Linked DNA regions of Homo sapiens: region 1 is linked to region 2. Evidence: fine-mapped expression QTL. A gene starts in region 2. The other region holds a variant in brackets. All regions are shown on one strand. Distances are between the middles of the regions.

What was found. PIP is the estimated chance that this variant, and not a neighbour inherited with it, causes the effect.
Region 1: its variant is fine-mapped to the expression of BCAT1 in whole blood (INTERVAL, PIP above 0.99).

The regions. Positions count from the first base shown.
Region 1 is chr12:24,897,773-24,900,693 of GRCh38, forward strand. All of the region lies in intron 2 of BCAT1 (branched chain amino acid transaminase 1), which reads right to left. Among named protein-coding and RNA genes, the nearest start is that of BCAT1, 50 kb to the right of the region's middle. The variant C/CA (reference allele first, on the strand shown) is at 1,707.
Region 2 is chr12:24,947,427-24,950,347 of GRCh38, forward strand. It overlaps BCAT1 (branched chain amino acid transaminase 1), which reads right to left and starts at 1,675. Exons shown (of 11, transcript NM_005504.7): 1 at 1,501-1,675. The coding sequence starts at 1,506. BCAT1-DT (BCAT1 divergent transcript) reads left to right here and starts at 1,737. Exons shown (of 3, transcript NR_199054.1): 1 at 1,737-1,904. RefSeq lists enhancers at 1,569-1,918, 2,039-2,128.

The DNA.
Region 1 (2,921 bases), 50 kb before region 2:
CGAACTCCTGACCTCAGGTGACCCACCCACCTCGGCCTCTGAAAGTGCTGGGATTACAGGTGTGAGCTACCGCGCCCGGCATATATCCAGTTTTTCAAAGTAATATACGATTAGGTGGCTTCAGAATCTCATCATGAACTTTTCTCTACTTGAAAAAAAAATTCTGCAACTCTGAAAACTAAAAATAACAACTTTTAACCTGAGCTCAAAGAGAAATTACCTAAGAATACTAAATTACTAGGTGATAGAATTGAATAAAGTTCAAACGTAAACAAGCAATATTAGCTGAAGACATGTGACTCGTTTGGGGCAGATATGAAATGTAGTTTTAAGGGAACGATTTGTTTCCTAAAGGAAACAAATTTTATAAACAATTTTTATCAGTGTTCTTTAAAAAGTATTTTCTTTTTCTAGATTTCCTTTCCAAAGATAAATAAAAATAATATTTTGTCAAATGATACTTTCTTCTGCATAATTAATCTGTCTCTTTCCAATGCTCCACATTCCCTGATGACATCGAAGTCAGGATGTTTCACATCATATGTTTGTGGAAGAATTGGAATGCCACAATAACTGATTGTGAAATGGCAAGAAATATTGAGAAAAACAGGGCATATTAAAAACAACTTCCTAATTCAAAGTTTGCAGTTGGGTAATCATTTGTTCTGAAATAGGGAGGCTCAGGGCAGGGAAGTGTAAATTTGTTGAAAGCACCTGAAAACTGTTTCAGCCAGGGTTCAGTCAACACTTTTTTTTTTTTTTTTTTTTTTTTTTGCTCTGTTGCCCAGGCTGGAGTGCAGTGGCACAATCTCGGCTCGCTGCAACCTCCGCCTCCCCGGTTCAAGCAAGTCTCAAGCCTCAGCCTCCCAGGTAGCTGGGATTACAGGCATGTGTCATCGCACCTGGCTAATTTTTGTATTTTTAATACAAACAGGGTTTCACCATGTTGGCCAGGCTAGTCTCAAACTCCTGACCTCAAATGATCCACCCACCTCAGCCTCCCAAAGTGCTGGGATTACAGGGGTGAGTCACCATGCCAGGCCTGTCAACACCTTTTGCTCACCATCGTATAGCACATTTGCTCTTCTCTTCATTGGCCACATTTTTCAAAAATCAAGTCTGTATTACAACTGTATCAGACATTTAATAACTTTATTCTAGGTTCTTGTGCATTATTCTTACTCCATTTGGAAAGCCTTAGGCACTATGTTCATCTTTTGGAGATACTCTTTTAAAATCTAATAAAGAGGATCATGAAGAGAACTGCAGATTTGCAGTGTTGCATTCTGTGGAGATATGTGAAGCTGGAGGAATTGGAAGAAATAGATGGCTGACCTCTTGCAAATGAAGAGGATCCTAGAGTCCACAGAAAGATTCGCCAGGATGTGTAACAACGTATCTCATTGCTAGGCCCTGCTGCAAAACTGCATCCTCATGTAATATGACTGCATCATAAATGGGGAGGGGAGAAGAAATACGAAAACTACCCAAGAGAGACCCAAAAGGCCATATGAAATGTTATAAATGATGTAGATTAACAAAAAGGTAGAGAAATATGTCAAAAGCAACCACAGTTAGAATGGTTATTATTAGAAAGACAAAAAATAACAGATGCTGATGAGGATACAGAGAAAAGAGAACGCTTATACACTGTTGGTAAGAATGTAAATTAGTTTATCTACTGTGGAAAATGGTATGAAGCTTTC[C/CA]AAAAAAAAAACTAAAAGTAGAATGACCATATAAACCAACAATCCTACTACTGGGTATTTTCCAAAGGAAAGGAAATCAGTATATCAAAGGGATATCTGCAGTCCCATGTTTATTACAGCACTATTCACAATAGTCAAGACATGGAATCACCTAAGTGTCCATCAATGAACAAATAAAATGTGGTGCATATACACAATGGAATACTACTCAGCCATTAAAAAAGAGTAAAATCGTGTCATTTGTAGCAACATGGATGGAACTGGAAGTCATTATGGTAAGCGAAATAAGCCAAACACAGAAAAAAAAAAAAACCCAGAAAAACAAATATTGCATGTTCTCACTCATACGTGAGAGCTAAAAAAAAAAGTTGATCTCATGGAGGAAGAGAGTACTCATAGAATGATAGATATCAGAAGATGGCAGGGGGTGGGAAGGGTGTAGGTGGAGGAAGAGAGGTTGGTTAATGAGTACAAACATACAGTTAGATAGAAGCGATAAAGTCTACTGTTCATAGCAGAGTAGGGTGATTATAGTTAACAACAATGTAGGCTATATATATATATTTTGTTTGTTTGTTTGTTTTTGTTTTTGTTTTTTGAGACAGAGAAAAGTATATCAAAAACAAAGATGGTCTATAAAATCTACCATTTTTATTCCCTAAATTATCAATATCATTTTTACACATGCCTTATTACATATGTGCTGTGAATACATCCACCATAACTCATGTTTTGATGTGTAAATACATGAGTGTAAACAGGCAATTCCCCTAAATAAAACCTAATATACAGAAATCTAAATTAACAAATAAAAAAGATTATTTATGGCCAGGCATTGTGGCTTATGCCTGTGACCCAGCATTTTGGGAGGCCGAGGTGGGAGGGTTGCACAAGCCCAGGAGTTGGAGATCAGTCTGGGCAACACAGGGAGATCCCATCTCTACAAAAAATGACGAAATTAGTTGGGCCTGATGGCATGCAAGCCGATAGTCTCAGGTACTTGAGAGGCTAAGAGGATCACTTGAGTCTGAGAGATCAAGGCTGAAAGTGATACCTAATTGATGGTGCCACTGCACTTCAGTCTGGGCAACAGAACAAGACTCTGTCTCAAAAAAAAGAAAAAGAAAGGAAAAGATTATTTAAATTTGAGTTGATATTTTTCTTTGCAAAGAATTCTTCAGGCTAGGCTTGGTGGCTCACGCCTGCAATCCCAGC
Region 2 (2,921 bases):
CAATCAAGATGCCATGTGCAAATAACATTTTTTTAAAAAATCAAGCTTGTGATAGCAATACATATTTAAGAGATAAGTGGAAAGATGTTTGAAATATTGTGATAAAACTAACTTAATGGAACCTTCCATACTTCTTCGATCATACCTAGAATACAATCATTTCTTTCTTAATCTTAGGAAATATCAGGAAACAGAAAAGAGACTACTTGTAGATATCTTACCTAGTTCCCCATGTTATAAAAGTATCTTGTGGAAGGGACAGGGGTTTTTGGACCTACAAAAACGCGTAATTAACCACAACTGCACATGGACAGGAAAAAGCTGGAAAAGCAAGACTGTTCATTCTTAGTTTTCTCCTTTTACTTACTAAAGCTATAATCAACTAAAGTGTGTTTTTCATCTGAAATGAAACAAGCATGAGGAAGCCAGAAATAGAACCTCTAACTATAGAAGAAAAGTTGTGTGATCTCTGTTGAATACAAAAACGCATAGTTTCCACTCGGTTACTGTTTAATTGTAGTGAAAGTTTTTGTTTGGCAACAAAGGCGCTATTTACATATTATTTCTTCTAAGTGAAACTATGGTCTGGGATGGGTTGTAGATAAGAGCAGTTGAGAACCACGCTTCATCTCCCTCCTTAGAAACTCTGAAACGAGGCTTTATTCCTACCAGAAGTTCAGATTGCATTATGGTCATCTCAATTCCAAAATGTTAGATGGCAAGAATATCTGCCCATCCTTCACTTTCCTTGGAAAAAGTTGCTCTTCGGGTTTTATATGCGATTGCAGTTTTCCAGTGTGTGAAACTAGGAAAACAAAACACTCAACGGTGTACATCCCTACACCTAAATAGTCAGAAATAATAGGCAGCTAGGCTAATTATCCTTGATTAGCAAGATCAGAGCCATTAGGGTGCTCACTGGTTTAACAAATGAATGCCCTTAGGCGTCTATCATTTGTAACTCCTAGAAGCTTTAATTTCCACAAGAAACAAAATAAGAGGGGCCTTCTGCTTTTAACAGTGAAAAGATCGTTCTCCCTCCCCTCTCCACCCGGGTCAACTCTTCCAGCCGCTCCCTCCTGCATCACGAACACACGCTGCAGGAAAGCGCATTTACAGCCCGGGACATCCCCAGACCTCCTCTCCAAAATTCCCCACCTCCTGTGCATAGGAGAAACTGAGAGAAGCCCTCACTTCCTTTCCAAACTTCACAAGCAGGGGAGGGAGCTGTAGCAGACTTTCACCTCCGTTCCCAAAAGCGAATGTGAAAAAGTCCGAGAAGGCACGTCCTGCGAGTGGAGGTTAAACCGAAATCTGAACAGAATGCACGGTCCCCGCAAACTACGATTGATAAAGAAGATACTGAGACGTTTGCGGGGGATATAAGCCATGGTTGTCTCGCCTTCCTCCCCTCCCTGCCAACTATGTTTCTTGGAGAAATCGCCGGTTCGATTCACGCACACATTTTTGTAAAACACGGACAAAACCATAAGTAGTTACCTTCATTGTTCCGTCGGCCACGAGGGAAGCTCGAGCTGAGCGGAGGGCAGATCCCAAGGGTCGTAGCCCCTGGCCGTGTGGACCGGGTCTGCGGCTGCAGAGCGCGGTCCCGGCTGCAGCAAGACCTGGGGCAGTGCCCGAGGCGGCGGCGAGTACACGTGGCGGGCTGGATTGCAGACCGGCCCTCTCGCGGCGGAGACTCGCGACCTAGCGGATTGCATCAGCAGGAAGACACTAAGGCTGCTCCCCCAGGCCGCCCCCAGATGGTGGAGTCTCTCCCAGCCCGAAGATTCGGAGCCAGCGCCCAGACCCGAGCCTCACTCACTGCTCACTCCCGGGGTGCAGGGCAGAGGTGCCAGTGTTGCAAGCAAATGACACGGTTACCCCCGAATCAGCCACTGTGGGTGCGTATCCGAGTGTGGGGATGCCCGTGTAACATTTATATGGAGACGTCAAGGAGGAGGAAATAAACAGATCAGAGGTCAAATGTGATTGCCATTCCGTCATCACTGGCTCCTGCCCACCTCCCTACTGTCCCCAAAGTAACTTTGCTGCATGCTGAGAGGACCACGGCACAATCCTGCCCAAAAGTATACATGTATCCCCCGCGGCTACTTTAAATGTACTTTTGCAGTAGTCAAGAACATGTGCCTGGTTTGCCGATCTCTTTCCCAGAGTTCCTTAGTCACCCTCAAATATAACCATTTTTGCCAATTTATTATGTACATGGGGGAAAATTTTTAATCCTTTAATTTGAGCATATAAAATTCTTTATAATGTGAAATTGCCCAGTAGCCTAGTTGGTCCCCTGTAAGTTCCCTCCCCACATCTATACAAAGCTCCAGGATTGCTACTTTTCCATGTCCAGCGCCTAGGTCAGCCTCCATGACTGCTTAAGTGTGCTGCTGGTTGACCTCCGCTGCCTCTCTGTCAAGCTGGCAAACTCCTATTTTTGTAAATTTCAACCCAAGTCTTTGCTGTGGAAGTTGCTTCCAATGCCCTCAAACAGAACTGGGCCCTTGGTCTATGTGCTGCACTTTGTCCACATCCTTTCTCAAAATCAATTATTTTATTTTATCATTTTTTAATGGAGATGGGGTCTCACTAAATTGGCCAAGCTGGTCTTGAACTCCTGGCCTCAGCAATCCCCTCGCCTCCGCCTCCCAAATTGCTGGGATTACAGATGTGAGACTGTGCCCAGCTTCTTAATTTTACTTTAATTATTTGTTTGCACAGTTGTCACTTCAGTGGATTATGAGATTCGTAAGGGCAGATCCTTTGTCATATTTATCTCCCATACCAAGTGGCCTGCCGTGGAAGAGAGGGAGTGTTGAAAACAAATGTGTCAGTGCTTAATGACTGTTGGTCAGGTGAATGAATGGTTAAATTATGTGTTCAATAAATGTACTGAGTGATTTCTA